2 separate regions of the Homo sapiens genome follow, and region 2 is linked to region 1. A link means that fine-mapping ties the variant in region 1 to the expression of a gene that starts in the linked region. Tissue or cell type: left ventricle. Region 1 holds a variant in brackets; the other region holds the start of a gene. All regions are shown on one strand. Distances are between the middles of the regions.

The links. PIP is the estimated chance that this variant, and not a neighbour inherited with it, causes the effect.
Region 2: CPE starts here. The variant in region 1 is fine-mapped to the expression of CPE in left ventricle (GTEx, PIP 0.90).

What each region holds. Positions count from the first base shown.
Region 1 is chr4:165,412,651-165,420,838 of GRCh38, forward strand. All of the region lies in intron 1 of CPE (carboxypeptidase E), which reads left to right. Among named protein-coding and RNA genes, the nearest start is that of MIR578, 31 kb to the left of the region's middle. The variant TA/T (reference allele first, on the strand shown) is at 4,589.
Region 2 is chr4:165,374,258-165,382,445 of GRCh38, forward strand. CPE (carboxypeptidase E) reads left to right here and starts at 4,751. Exons shown (of 9, transcript NM_001873.4): 1 at 4,751-5,271. The coding sequence starts at 4,965. RefSeq lists a silencer at 4,784-5,043 and an enhancer at 6,523-7,067.

The DNA.
Region 1 (8,188 bases):
GGCAGGCAGCATTGCCACTGTGCACTTTATCCTAAAAACAACCCTCTGAGGGAGGTGAGAAAGGTATGTTTCTTCACATTTAAAAAATATGAACATGTTTAAAAAGTAAACAGTGATCTATTTACATCTGTATGCTGGGAAGAAGTTCTAGAGTCATCATCTTCACCTCTTCAATGCTTCAGTCATTGGCTTCCCAGCCTCTAAGCAGCCATGTATTCCATTTCTTTTTGCACCGTTATAACCAGTGATTTTCTCGAATCCAAAATCTGTAACGTTCCTCTGCTTAATTCCCTGCAGGTGCTCACTGTTACACCTAGAATCAAACCCAGACTTCTTCGCATGCGCTTGAGATTCTTCTGGCTGGGTCCCTGCACACCTCTGCAGTGTCACACTTGCACTCTCTGAGCCCTAGCTCTACAGGGCTTTTCTCATTTTAACAAAACTTGCTCTTTCTTGTCTCTCACATGTTGTATATGCCAGTTCCCTGGCCTCAACATTCTTTTCTTCCCCTCTTCCCTCTTACTCTACCCTTCTTAAGTGGCTATTCTTGTCCCTTCTTTTCATCTCTACCTTGATGCCATGTCTCTATAGTGTGTTGTAATTGCATGTCCAACGCCACTTTTCCTGAGTCCACGGGCCTGGAAACCATGTGATGCTGGGTCCAAAGTGAAGAATTGGGGGATAGAGAACGGGAATCTTGTTCACACAGTTCTCTCCAGTACCCAGCATGGTGACCCAGAACATGTACATGTAAGGCATTTGTACATGTAATTAATTAGCAGGCATGTTTTGAACACCAGCTTCATTAGGAGTGATGCCATATTTGAGGCAGAAACATAGTATGATGGAGAATTCAAGAGGCTTTGGACTCATAGCTCTTAGCTGAATTCTGGCTTTATCAGTACTACCTTTGAGGCTTTAAGCAAGTTACTTAACTTTTCTGAGCTTACTTTCTCAAATAAAAAGCAAGGATAACTAAAATGCTTTGGAAACTTTCCTGTGAGAAATTGATGTGTAAATAGATAATTAAGGGACATGCTAGGAGTTGTGTTACAGGCATGAACAGGAACACAGAGGAGGGGACAACCAACACAGCTCAAGAGGTCACAGAAGATGTCATGTAAGCCTTTTCTTTTTCTCAGAGCCTCTGGCATTGACGTGCTTGGAGATACCTGAAAATTGGGCAGCTGTTTATCTTTCTGGAAATGTTTAGTCAAAGGTCTTCTGAGCATGGAGATACAGGAAGTGATCTTCCATTCATGCATATTTATGATTCTATTCTAAGTTAAATTATTAATAGCATTTGACGAGTATTCTATTTTGATATGGACAAGAAAAATCGTTCACTTTGAAACATTTATTGAGCTCGCTTATAGCACACTGGGAAAAAAAGTCTTGGTTTTGTTATTTTTCTCAAAAGATTTGTATGTATTTTCCTGCAATAATAAACCAAAAATAAAATCCATGAAGGATCTAGAACTTTTAAGGCTATGTAATTCATATTTTAAGCCTTTACTGTTTCATAAATTATTTAAATAATTTGAGGAATTACTATTGAAGAGAGTCTTAATCTGTCAAATTGATCAGATTGGATTTATCTTGAAAACAGTTCTGCATCTTTGGATAAAAATCTATTTTATTCCAAAGAAAGCTTTTTTTATGGCAAATAAAAGCAAAGGTATACATTTTTAATAATCTTATGATAAATAGGATGATCTGCTTTAAAGAAGAGTAAGTTTATAGAGTCAGAGTATACTTGTACACACCTCAAAGTCAAACGTTTGAAAAATGAAGTTTGTTATGATTCTAAGTGTAGTTTCGAATGTAAGAAAAAGTTAAAAGTGTGATGCAGTCAGGAAGCTTGGAATATTCTCCTGCATAAATTATATGTGTTAACAGCCTTAGCAGTATTCTCTTGTAGGCCACTTGGCTCCATCTTAAAGTAGTTTGATGAATATTGACTGGTCTGCAAAATTTGACTTAAGAAATGTTGAGCCAAAGTATCCTGGATAACGTAGATATAGAGATAAAGTAATATATATATATACACACACACACACATACACACACACACATATTTACATATATACACATATGTACTTATTTACAGTGTATATAAAAAATAATTTAGAAGAATGCATCCAGAAACCAAATTGAGCTTGAAAAGTACCACCTCACATGACCGCAGGGACAGCTGGTTATTGTCTTAGGATATATTTGCATTTTGAAGTGAACTTTAGTGACATTACAAAATGCCAGATTGGAAAAACAGCCATTATTTAAAAAAAAAAACAAAATATAATTAGCACCAGATGAATGAGTTGTCTCATAATCACCTCATTATTACAAATTAATTCCAAATGAATATGTTTGAACAGGGCATTGGTTTTGAATCTTTAATTTATCTCCTCCTTAGCCTTGCTGCTGACAAATCATAAATAGATATAATTAATGAAAATGTTAATAGTGCCGGTCTCCAGAATATCTCTAGATCACTGACCTTCTGATTGGTGGAAAAACCTTTGGAGAATGATCTTTACAGGATTCCATGGCAGTGAGTTAATCTATTTTTCTCTACATGGGGGCAGCAGACGAGGTGAGTTTCTTCCTCTGTCATTTGTAGGATCTACTGTTATTCTCTGGAGAGCTATTGTGTCAGAACGGATTTGGATTATTTTTTAAAACTACTGCTACCTAGAGGGTAATTTTATTAAATTCCTTTATCATTTGGATTAAATACAGCAAAATGAAACCAGCTCCTCCTGCTCAGAGGAGCTGTCACCACAATCTTTAATATTTTCTTAGCATTATTTCCTTTAAAGTATGCTTTGGGACAATTAATAATGACTAATACTTAAATTTTCACTATGAGTAAAAGCTTTTTGGTAAACATTTATTATATATTCCATGTCTTCCTTTTATTCTCTAATTATTTCACCTATTCACCTAATTATTTTGTAGCTCAAGTGTATAATTTAAATGATGTAGAAATATAGAGATCAAAATTAATACAAATACATTTATATAGTGATGTGTTACATGTTATATTTGTCACAAATATAGCATATATTTGTTTGTCTAGTACATATATAGTATATACAGTACATATATATTACATACATACATATAGTACATATTTGTGTAGTACACAGGTATAGTGCATATATATATATATTTGTCACATATATAGAAGTCCTGTGTCTTCCTTTTAGGTAACATGGGAGAATGTAAGTTTTTGTTTTCGGTCCAAGAATGACACAGATTTTTTTGTTTGTTTAGTTAGTTTTCTTTAGGATCTAGATCCCCCAGAGGTAAACACTAAATATAAAACCGGGAATTAGAAGCTGGCCTTGGGTTCTGCAGTTCTAGGCATGGCGTTAACGTTTTTCTTAAAACTTAAGGCCCAGACTACACAAGGAATCTTCCCGCCTGCACTCCCCTGCCAGCTCAGCTACTTCCCTACTCCTGCGCCAACTCAACCGTAACAGTAGCTGAGACGAAAGCATTGCTCTGAAGTAAGGTGTAGGGAAGCTTTCTGGCTTCCTTAATAAAGTTACACACGATCTTCTAAGCTTGGCGATGGAGGGAGAAGGCACATGGGAGGGTCTTCACCGATCCTCTGGCCCTGACTCTGCCTACCCTTCATTCATTCACCTGCCCCTCTGGGGGCTCTGGGCGGTGACCACTGCCACTATTGGGCTAGCTAGTGGTGGGGGCACTGCTCCCCTTAATGCTCTGGCCCCTAGGGGAGACACAAAATATTGTTTTAAATTTCCAGTAGTGTAGCTCATGGCAGGCTGAGGCACTTACACAAAAGGGTGCTGGAGGCTTTAGGGTAACACAGTAGAAATCATCAAAGGGAGAATATGCGGTAGACAATTTAGGCTCTTCAACATAACTTGCTTGATCTCCAGAGGCCCCAAACTCTGCTCATGCCAGGCTTTGCACATGCCGTTTCCTCTGCTTGGACTGGTCTTCCCCATCATTGCCTGGCTATCTTCTTCTCAATTACTAGATTTCACAGTAGGGGTTCCGCCTTCTTGATTCCCCCGGCCTGGGTTATATAGGTTTGTCCTAGATAGTGCGGTGGCCCCACATATGCCTCCTCATCAACCTGTTTTACAGTTGTTTATCCTGTTAGGCCATAAGCTCAGTGGCACCAGGGACCTTCTCTGTCTCTCTCAGCACTGTATTCTCATCAGCTTGGACAGTGCCTGGCACACAGTGGGGACTCAGAAAATATTTTCGAATGTGTCAATGAGTCCATGAATGAATGGAATTTGGTAAAAAAGAGAATTCTGACCTCCAGCTTCTCTTTATCTTATGAGATGCTTTCTTCACTGTAATCTTGCAGGACTGGAGTTAGGTTTTATTTAGAAAGCTGGCAGGTTTATTTACAAAAGATGCAAATAAACCACTGGGCTTAGGGGACAGAAAGAAAGAGCCATTTTCTTAGACTAGAAAATAATATGGAATGGATTAGGGGGCAGAAGAAGGAATGGGTGAGTGGGGTGGAGGAATGGCAACAGATAAGATGTTGATGGTTATAAAAATTGGGAAACTGTCCAATTCTCCTTAGTTTAGACTT[TA/T]AAAAAAATGAGTAAATTTCCTAGAAGTCAAGTGTAGCCATATGAAAATATTTGGACTAAGTTAAATATAATTCCCTTGGTATTATTGAATTGCCTTTGACTTGGAGACAGAGCTATTCATTATAGAGCAGTTTCTAAGAGCCTGGGCTTCACAGAGATTATCTCTTTTCATTCAACAATGTAATGAAGTAGGAATTATACTTCTATTTTACAGATGAAGAAATAGACTCAGAGAGTTTAATTGACTTTAGGATTGTAAAACTACAAACAGTAGAACTGGCAGCCATTCATTCATTCCACAAATATTTATTGGCAGTATTTTTTTTTTTTATCATTAGCTTTGTCTTTTTTGATGGTAGAAAATGCATTTCATTTAGAACTATGATTTTAGCCCAGAGAAAGTGATGTAGAAAAAAGCACTAAGTTAACTAGATCATATCAGTATAAATGTGAAGCCTCACCATTTTACTCATCCAAAAGTGTCTAGGGCCTTAAGTTCAGTTCCTTTTATTACAACTTTAATATTTTGTCTGTCTTAAAAAAAAAAAAAAGACATTAAATCTCCAGCCCCTGGTATCGTGCTTGGAACATGGTGGGTACTTAATAAATAATTTGTAGTGAATGGGAAAATTGAGAACCATTAGTCATTTTCTATTCAGTATTAACAAAGTCTGACTTACTTTTTTGTTTTTGTTCTGTGTGGGCACATTTCACTGAGTGCAACTTATGAAGGACCTCAAGATCAAATTCATGTCGTACTCTTGGAATTGAATTCTGACAGGTGGACTGAGAGTTTTTTGTCCTCTAAGCCTTCATTCTAAGACAGATGACACCAATGTAGGTAGTTATTCAGAATAATAGACTCAGGAATTTAATAAGGGTGTTGTTTAAAACGCAAATATCACCAACCAGTGGTAAAGCAAACACATTCTGTGTGAATGAGTACAGCCCACTGATTGACATTCAAGACCCATTGGAAAAATCAGGAGACACAAGAGTGGGAAGAGTGCAGATTGGAGCAGCTATCCAAAAATACAGAAGGCCAGAAGGTGGTGAGAAAAATGTCAGACAACAGATTGTGGAGAAAAATAAACAAGCCAAGAAAAGTCCTATTTGGCCTTAAAAGAGGCAGATGGTGACAGGAAGTGTTCAGTGAGGAGTGATTGTGCTGAAAATCACAAAGTCTATAAAATTATCCATCTGTAGTTTGAGGTTTTTGGGGAAAATTAAAACTCTTTGCTAGCATTACAGGGAAGGGTGATAGCACACAAACAGAATATTAAGTAAGTGTGTATTTGTGTCAGGATAATAGAAATGAGAGATGCGTTATTCCATTAGAATAGAAGTTTTGTTTACTTAGAGATTGTGACCAAAATTATAAAACGTGTTTTGTTTTGCATAAAAGCAGTTGAACTTGTATTAAATCTGTTCTTTCCACATTTTTGATGTAAGTAAGAATTCTCCCAAGAATGTTAATAGATTGCTAAGGTAGCAATGATAATTTTCTAACTGAAGGAATGTACTAAACATTTTTTTCCATTAGAGAGTTTTTTTGGAATGGGATATAGAAAATGACAAATCACAATGCTAACTTTAAAGCAAAGAATTTTAATTTGAAAGTTGAGAAAATATAGCAGGGAAAACTAATCATTTGGAATAGTATGAGATAATTTGAAAAAAATATTATAAATATTTTAAGATAGATGTGGTTGAACATTTAGAATTGGGAATCATTTTTTGATAGTTTGGGACCTAGTTTTCTGTGCTTACATTTTAATTCAGTACTACTTACTCCGTGGTCTTCTGGTGGTGTGCAACTTGAGGAATCAAATAAGCCAGGGTTTTTACAACTCTTTTCTAGGTCATTAAAGCATTTCTGCTATGTGCCTGAATATGTCTTTGATTTCATGCATAAGAAATATTAGATGCTTCATTCTCCTTCTTTAGAAGAAATACTAACTGAATATGTTGGATTCTTCTCTATTTTTATTGTTTCTCTCTTAGATTTTTAACCACAGTTGCTCAAGTCTAAGTTTTGTATTTTAAGTTTAGACGTGTAAAGTAAAAGGCTGGGAGCTGAGTGTGTGGTGATGCTTCCTCCTTTTCCCTTGAGAACTGAAGGCAAAAAATTAAATTTATTATAAAAATTTGTTTTACTTTTAAAGATGTGATTTTCCAGACAGAGAAACAAACTCATGTATCGGTGTATTTTTTAATGAATTAGAAGCATGAAATCTAGGTACTTTATGTAAGTCATTTTATTTAATCCTCAAAATAATGTTTTAAAATAGTTATTATTTTCATTCTCATTTTATAATTGGGGAAATGTAAGATCATCAAAACCAAGTTTCAGTTTCCTAAAGTCACACACCTAATAGCAGAGTCAGGATTTGAACTCAATTCCGTGTCTTTCAATGGCAGAAGGGGTTTTGCACATTAGATTACATAAGCCATTGTCCATTGACTCCTTGTCCTTTGCACTTGTCCAAGAGTGGTCCCCAGGCACAAACATGCATGTGAAGAAAGCTCCAGAAGAGATTCTGATTCAAATCTCCAGTTGGGAACTAATACATCAAACATTTCAAAAATCAATCAACCAACCAATCAACCCAGCCTTTATTGTATGGTGGTATTTAAAAATCTAAACTCTATTTTCTGCAAGTTGCTAGCCAATTGAACCAAACTTCTTCACTGGATAATATTTTTAAACATAGATTTAGAATGCCTTTTTTTCAAATATGAAAATAAAAGATATAATAGCTTATTTCTGTGATATATGCATACATAATTGCTTCCCACCTAATTTTTTTTTCACTTTTGTAGCCTTATATGTGTGACTGTCTTAATATCTCAAAGGGCTAGTGCTATCCTCACCCTTATTCTTAGATTTTATCTCTTTAATTATTTTCTTTGCTTTGTTATTCCCACCAGTTTGTCTTCTAGAAGGTCTTCATATCATGTTATCACTTAATAAACATTCTCTTTTTTATTCTGAGTGAAAATGCACCAAAGTATAAATCTGAGAAAAAGTGAATGTTTTATAACTTTTGTTTCTCAGAAAATTATAGCAGTTATGTTAATATTGGTGATATACTTCTCATTGTAGTCATTCCTATGCTAGCAATATTTTTATTGCTACTGTGGATAAATTATTTCATTATATTTTTAACTTGTTATTGTTGGAGTAAAACAACTATTTATTTTTCATATAAATATTTTGTTTTTGGCCTTTTTGCTGAACTCTGAATTCTAATGGCTGTCCAGTTTGTTTATTTATTTCTTTATTTTATCATCTCCATTTTACAGGTGATGTCTAGTTTATTTTTTCTGTTTTTTTTCTGAGTGTACTATATAAATTGTATACAGTGTTGGTACTTTATATTTTTAAGTTTATATATCGTAATTTATTCCTATGCATAATTGAATAGTAGAGAATTTCTAGTATACTGTTACATAGTATGTCTTTTCCCTGATTTTAATGGGAATGGCATTTCTGTGCTCATATGCATAGTCAAGCATTCAAATAACCATTCTTCTGAAGTTGCAGATTAGGTACTTTAAGCATTTGGAATAATTAGTTTTTATTAAATGTCATTTTG
Region 2 (8,188 bases), 38 kb before region 1:
TCTCTCTCTTCTCCTTCTGGACACCCATAATCAATATATTTGTTCACTTGGTGGTGTCTGATAATTCCCTTAGACTCTCTTCACTCTTTTTGATTTTCTTTGCTTTTTGCTTCTCTGACTGGATAATCTCAAATGACCTGTCTTGGAGTTGACTAATTCTTCTGTTTGATCAAATCTGCTGTTAAACCCTTATGATGAATTTCTTATTTCAGTTATTGCATTCTTTCACCTCAGAATTTCCATTTGGTTCTTCTTTATCTTTTCTATTTCTTCATAATATTCTCATTTATTTAATGTGTTATTTCCCTCATTTTGTTTAGTTGTCTATCTGGGTTCTCTTGTAACTTGTTGAGCTACTTTAAGATGATCATTTTGAATTCTTTGTCAGACAATTCATAGATCTCCATTTTTTTAGGGCCAGTTGTTGTATATTTATTTTGTTCTTTTGATTGCGTTTTATTTTCCTGTTTCTTCATGTTACTTGTAGCTTTGCATTGATGTCTTTACATGTGACATCCATGTCTTAATGACATGTTCTCCACTCTTAATGAACTGGCTTTGATAGGGAAAGACAGCCCAGATAGAGTTTCTGGGTCTTGTTCCTAGGTCCTGATCCAGGTGTTCAGTCTTTTTCTTTTCTTTTCTTTTTTCTTTTCCTTTCTTTTCTTTTCAGCACTAGCAATCTCTTGCTCCCTCTGGTTCCCATGTCAGTCTCATCTGTGCTCCATATGAGATGAGATAGAAACTAGCTCTTCAGGGAGCTCACTGAAAGGCTCAGGACATTAGAGTCATGATCCACTCCTCCTTCTTTCCTGAAGGAGAGGCCTTAGTTCTATGCCTTCTACAGATCTCTCCGAGCCTTGCCAGCCATGGGAAGGTGCCCATTCTCCTAGCTTTCCCAGGCATCTGGACTATGCCATGTCTTTAAGCACTCTGTAAGAGGCACAACAGAAGCCAGCCCCTTGAGGGGTGTACTGAAAGGCCAGAAATGTTGGATGCTCACCCTACTCTCTATCCCCTGCCCTCCCTACACCAGGAAAGGATTGTAGTCTCTCTGGTGCTGAGTTGTACTCGCAGGTAAAGTGAAATAGCTTTTCTTATCTGTTTCAGTGTGGCTGATTGTGATTTTTTGTTTGTCTGGGGTACTGAAATTTCTTAACTTAATCCTGAACTTCTTATGAAGCTAATTTGTTACTTATATCACTGTTAAATCTGTGTTTCTGTTGGGAAATGAGGGCTGGAACTTCCTATTCTGCTATCTTGCTGACATCACTCTATCCTTGATGTTCTTGAGGTTATTTATGTCTATTGTATCTGTATGGGGGAGATGTATGTATTAGTGGTGGTTCTGGCTCAGAGTCTCTAATGTGGCTGTGGTAAACCTCAGATGTCAGAGATGGAGCCCTCTTGAGGCTCAGGTGGGGCTGAGATCTGCCCCTGCCCACCCACATGGTTGTTGACAGACCTCAGTTCTTAACTGAATGCTAGACCGAGGATGTCAGTTTCTCTCAGGCTGTTTGCCAGATGCCTCAGTTCCTTGCTATATAAGCCTCTCCACAATATGGCAGACAACTTCCCCAAGACAAGCGATGGAGTGATGGGGGACTGGGGGAAGGAAAGGAGGGAGAGAGAGAGGGAGAGGGGGAGGAGAGAGCGCACACACAAGCATGAGAGAGCAATTAAGATGGGAGCTGCAGTCTTTTTAATAACCTAATTTTGGAAGATCATCTCATTACTTTTGCTGTGTTATGTTCATGAGAAAACCACTAAGTCCTGCCTACACTCAGATGGAAGAAATTAAGTTTCATCACTTGCAAAGGAGGAGTATAAAGAATTGTCCCATCACAACACTATATGATGTCATGCTACTGCATATCTCTTCCTAACACTGTATTCAGTGATACAACATTGGTAGTTTGAAATCAGCCATGGTGGGAATATTTAAACCATGGAAATTAGCAAACATTCTAAGTCAGACTTTTCCCCCCAGACAGCTGACATTTACCAGCACACATCAGGATGAATATAGAGCTATGTGTTCACAAAATTTTTATGAAGTAGACGAATTTTAGGAAGGGCTTTGAAAGAAGGAAATAAAATATTATTGATAAAGAAAAAGATAGTTTCTTAATTTAAAGATAATAGAGGTGAAGCAAGAAGTGGAGGGAGACCTAGGGAGTTTAAATATGCTCTTATGGATGCCTATAATGACATGAAGAAAAAGCAGCTCTTTCTTTCTCTTTTTGTTTCTTGTGTGTGCATGTGTGCACATGATTTGAAATGGAGATTGCATACTAAATTTAACTATGTGTACACACATTAAAGACTTGGCATACAAGATTTTTCTTTAATCCAGCAATCAGGATGGGTATATAATCTTTTACATAATTGCCTATGAAGCCACAAACAAGTAATCCATACGCCAGTAAAGTTGATACAGCTGACCTATACCTAAAATAGCTCAGAAATTCAAAGACCAAATTTTAGTTCATTTGAACTGATGCCTTGGTGTATGTAGTACGACCAATAATATGTGAGGAGTGCCACCATTTATCAAATGAGCAGGAATTCACTTCAAAAAGAAAATTTCCAGAATCATAGCATTTTAGGTCTGAAAGAGACAGTGGGAAACCTACAGTACATTATTTCTCAAAATGTCTTTGTCAATCAAACATCAACATCAGAAATGACTGGTCTTCTTTTTAAAACCTAGAAGCTTGTTAATACCTGAAACCCACCCCAGACCTGATGAATTCATAGGGGCTTAAGAATCTGCACATTCTATAAACTCTCTACATGATTCTGTTGCAAGCAAACGTTAGAGAGTGAAAAATCCAAACCTTTTATTTTATAGATTAGGGAAACAAACAACTAAGCTGTAAAAGAGAACCCCCTGCCCAACAAGTGAGACCACATAGTAGGCATGATTTTACACATTACAATTTTTTTTTCTCCAAAATAAAATTTTTTAAATCCAGCAATCAGGGTGGATATATAATCTTTTGTATAATTGCCTATGAAGCCACAAACAAGTAATACATATGCCAGTAAAGTTGGTACAGCTGACCTACACCTAAAAATAGCCCAGAAATTCAAAGACCAAGTTTTCATTCCAAAATTTTTTATTTTGGAGAAAATAGAACGCATATCCTTTGTTCAAAGAGACAGCTAAGGAACAACACAGGACTTCAATGAAAAATATGTTGTTTATGTGTGTAGTTACTAGTCAGTATGCCCCACCTAGCCACAAATTAGTGTGGTTACTCTAAATTGCTAACATGAAAATCTTAACCTCCTACTTCTGAAGTTATTTGGTTTTAGCTACTCAATTTTTTTTTCTAGGCTTCCAAGGTTGCTGTTTTGGGCATGGTTTTAGAAATATAATTATAAGTTTGATTTCAAACTTCTGGACCATGTAATCAAGCACAGACTGGTCATAGTGGAAAATATACAATTTTTAGCTCTGCCTACATTGACAAAAAAAAAAATGGCTGGATCCACATCAATTCAACTTGAGTGCCATGTGTTTACAGTGACAGTTTCTCCCCGAAAACGCAAAAAAAAAAAAAAAAAAAAAAAGAAGATCCATGCTGCTGTAGTATATGTACATAGGGGTGTTTAAAGCCAGCCCCTCCAGCAGCACCTTACCAACCATGTCTGTGCTTTTATTTATTGATCCAATAAGATGACTTAAATATCTAACTCCTTTTCCACGTAAAAGTTTTTATTATGTGCAATGCATTGTTAAACAGGTGAAGAATGAACAAGTTTAGAAAAACAAAGAAGCTTAACATGGAAAATTACCCGCATGGTGTCCACTTTTCCTGCTCGGTTGCAATACCCAATGGATTATTTATTAATTTAGATTTGTGCTGTCCCTGAATCCAAACAGCAGCCTCTTTAGAGTAACATCTGCTCCAGACATTGCTCCAGGAATATAAATCCCGACTAAGGGGTGGATATTTAAAGCTGTAAATGATTTTTTATTTTTACAATAGCTTTGCAAAAGGAACGGAGGTGTCATGTCATCATCAGAGTTTTCTTAACAGGATTTAATCTTAATGCCAAACTAAATCCTTTGTCTAAAGCATCAGCAGAGTTGTACTTATTTTCCCCATAGTATTAAAGAGGAGGGCTGGTGCAGGCACAGCCATATGACATTGCCTTATTTATTTTGTCTGTTTGTTTTCTGGAAGAATCTAGGAATGTGCATAAATACAATTAAGGACAGTATCTACAAATTGGAAGAAAGCATTTCTATTCTCTTAAACCTCTAAATCAAAGCACTTAATGTTCTGATTTCCAGCAAGACCTTCTAATAAATGAAAACCCAACCCTTGGGTTTGTGTTTTGACTCTTGATACAATTATGAAAGACGCATCAGGAGATGGCAAGTGGCTGCCAGTACTTCCTTTTTTCTGGAATATTCTCTAATTCTTGGTGGATCAAGATGGAAACTGGTAGGCTTGGAATAGATGTCCCTTTAAAAGGCTCCACTAACAATACAAGAATATTTTTTCCATACGCAGTGACGTGGGTGGGTCATGGGTGTCTCAATGACAGTAACGTTCCCGAACCCCGGACCTTAGCTGTCATTTCACCTGCGTCGTCCCGGACGCCATTTGGCTGTTGACGTGGTTCCGAGCCAGCAAATAACGCCAGCAGCCCTCCCAGATCCACGCCGGCCCGTCTCTCCGCCGGCCCCCTCCTCGCAGTGGTTTCTCCTGCAGCTCCCCTGGGCTCCGCGGCCAGTAGTGCAGCCCGTGGAGCCGCGGCTTTGCCCGTCTCCTCTGGGTGGCCCCAGTGCGCGGGCTGACACTCATTCAGCCGGGGAAGGTGAGGCGAGTAGAGGCTGGTGCGGAACTTGCCGCCCCCAGCAGCGCCGGCGGGCTAAGCCCAGGGCCGGGCAGACAAAAGAGGCCGCCCGCGTAGGAAGGCACGGCCGGCGGCGGCGGAGCGCAGCGATGGCCGGGCGAGGGGGCAGCGCGCTGCTGGCTCTGTGCGGGGCACTGGCTGCCTGCGGGTGGCTCCTGGGCGCCGAAGCCCAGGAGCCCGGGGCGCCCGCGGCGGGCATGAGGCGGCGCCGGCGGCTGCAGCAAGAGGACGGCATCTCCTTCGAGTACCACCGCTACCCCGAGCTGCGCGAGGCGCTCGTGTCCGTGTGGCTGCAGTGCACCGCCATCAGCAGGATTTACACGGTGGGGCGCAGCTTCGAGGGCCGGGAGCTCCTGGTCATCGAGCTGTCCGACAACCCTGGCGTCCATGAGCCTGGTAAGGGCGCTGCCCCCTGACAGCCCTGGGGGCATCCCGGAGGGGGGCGGCAGAGGGTGGGACTGGTGGCGGTGGGGGAAGGAGGGAGGGATGGGCCCAGGGGTGCCTCTTGGTAAAAGGTATCTAAGGTGGAAGGTGGGAAGTGGAGGGAGGGATGGAAATGGGGAAGAACCCGACTTAGAGCGCCAGTGGCCCAATTTCTGCTTTCCCGTCCCATCCCCCCAGCACCAATCCCATCTCCCCAGACCTTAGGCCACCCTCTAGTAAGTATAGGCTTGGGAGGCTGGGGTGGCGGGGGATGGGGGGGATAGCAATACAGAAAAAACAAATCCTGACGCACGCAACCCCAGCGGTCGCTCTCACTTTGCTGTGTGAAAAACCCAAAGGAATGATTGCGAGTCCCCCGCAAGGGGGGTTGGTCTTCCTTGCTGACAAGAGTAGAAAGATAAGGTGCAGAAGGCAGTGATTGAGAGGAAAGGAGAACGAGGGAGAAAGAGTCATTTATCATGTTTTCTCTAATTTCCAGAGGACCAGTTTATTGGCTCTGTGTACCCATCTCTACCTGTGTGTGTATACGTATTAGGTACACTCGCTGCTGTGGATGCTTGGGGAATCTTAGGGATATTGCCAATCTGGGGTGGTGGTGTATAAAGATACGTTGGTGCCCCTCCTCCTACCAGGGTGAAAAGTGGTTTCTGACTTTTGAAACCAGATTTTGAAACTGCACAAGGCCTTTCCAAGGAAAAAGGAGTATTCCATTTTCTCTGCTATAACCATTTGAGATGAATAGTTTGTGATGGGGTCTTTATTCCAACTGATGTTCCCAAATAACCATCTGTATTCGTCTTTCCTAGGAGTATATTAAAGCACCTTTTGGTTTATGTTAATTGTGATGCATTTAGTATTAATAAAGAGGTATTTAAAAATGTTCTTGGGACTTTTTTCGTTATGTTTCTGCTTAGGAAATAATTTGGGCCTGGTCTTCTGATAATCAAGGTACAGCTAAAGTAATCTGTGCTAATAATATCAGCATGGGATGGATGCTTAATTTTTGTTTAATGACAAAGCAAGCAAGAAAAGTAGGCTAAAAATTCTCAGTGCAGGGCCAGTATAGTTTTATAATGATACGTAAGAACCAAACTGAGAAGAGATTAAAATAAGTGATCAATAGACATTTTGATCTTCAAATATATAGTAGGTGGGTTGATCAAGAATAAATCTTCAGGAAATATTTCTTACCTTCAAATAATATAAGAAAAAAAGGTTCATGTAAGTTTGCTGTCAAAATTCTAAGATCAGATCCTAGAAAACATTTAATATTAACTACTCTTATCTACCAGGATTCAGCATGTAGGATTGGACATTTTGAAACTTAGTTTCATACTGTTATCTGAAGACAGGGAAAAATTTAAAATGTGATAACTGATTTTCAGCTAAATCCAATAACCAAAGCCAAGATATCCTAGGCACAGTTAAAGCTAATGTAAGTATTTGTGAGTCTCCTGCTGCTTACTTAATGAGAACCCTTTGTTACTCTATTTTGTAGATTGATCCCAGAGTTTTTTGCGTTGTTACTTCAAGAGATTATATGAAAGCTAATGTTTAACTTTTTGTTGTTTCAAATTTGGAAATAAAATTTTAAAGTGATATTACAGTTAGAATGTGATATGCTTTAGAAAATGAAAACAATGATTTCTTTGCTTAAGTATCTGGAATATATAGTTCATCAAGGTTTGCAAATCCTTCTTTTAGATTGCAAGCTGTATGAAGTGGGGACCCTGATTCCAGCACCCAGCTCATGTTTGGCACACAGCGGGCTTGAATATACATTATGAAATAATCTACATTATGGAAAAATACTGAATATGCAGTGTGGAAAAAATGAATCCATCAATAGCTGCATAACACAGTGTATTAAAATAAAATGTTTTATTCTTCATACATTCAAAATACGTTGATTGAATTCCTCTTACAGAGACAAACTCGGAAGTGTTGTACAATATGTACTTTACAATTCCTTTTTAAATGAAGGAGACTCTAAGTCTATGGTATTACTAATAGAATACAAAATGTCTGTGTCCCTTATATTTTTAAAAGTAGAAATAAACTATTATAAACCAACACTAACAAAAGTACAAGGTGATATCCCCCTCCATCACCTTTTATGAGCGTCAAGGAGGTTAGAGATCTTCAGGAAACTAGTAAATATAGAGATCTGATCAGTATACAAGTTTGATGGTGCTTGTGTGAATTAACTTTAAGGAAGTTTGGAAAAAGGAAAATGTTCACCATTCTTAAATGGCCTTTCAGTTTCTTTTAGGTTAAACTATTTTAAGAAGTAAAAAGGAATACTTATTCTGAGGTACAAGTGGGCTCATTCAGTGTTTTTTTTGAGCACCTGTATACTCAAGGTGGACCAGGCGTCTGTGAGTTGTGCCTCTGCACAACCCATAGAAGATAACACAGAAGATAGTCGCTTGCCCTGAGGGCAATAGAGAATTGGGAGCTTGAAGAACAGCATAAAGGGATGTGAGGCTGCAAGATCGGCTTTGGGAGGACTGGAGAAAAAGACAGTAAGGTCAGCAGGTCAGGGAGACTGGATTATTGAAGAATTGATGACAAAAGACAGTAGGTCAGCAGGTCAGGGAGACTGGATTATTGAAGAATTGATGACAAAAGACAGTAGGTCAGCAGGTCAGGGAGACTGGATTATTGAAGAATTGATGACAAAAGACAGGAAATGTACAGTTTGTTGACATTTACAAATTCCAAAATAGCTGGTATAGATATCTGTCTTCACTAGGACCCCTGCTTTTGAAAAAGGGCCAATTGTCTTTACTATTTTCACCTTTTAAGTACCTTATTTTTTGGTTTGAAATAACCTTTCTGATTCAGCTTTAGGAAATAATATTGAACT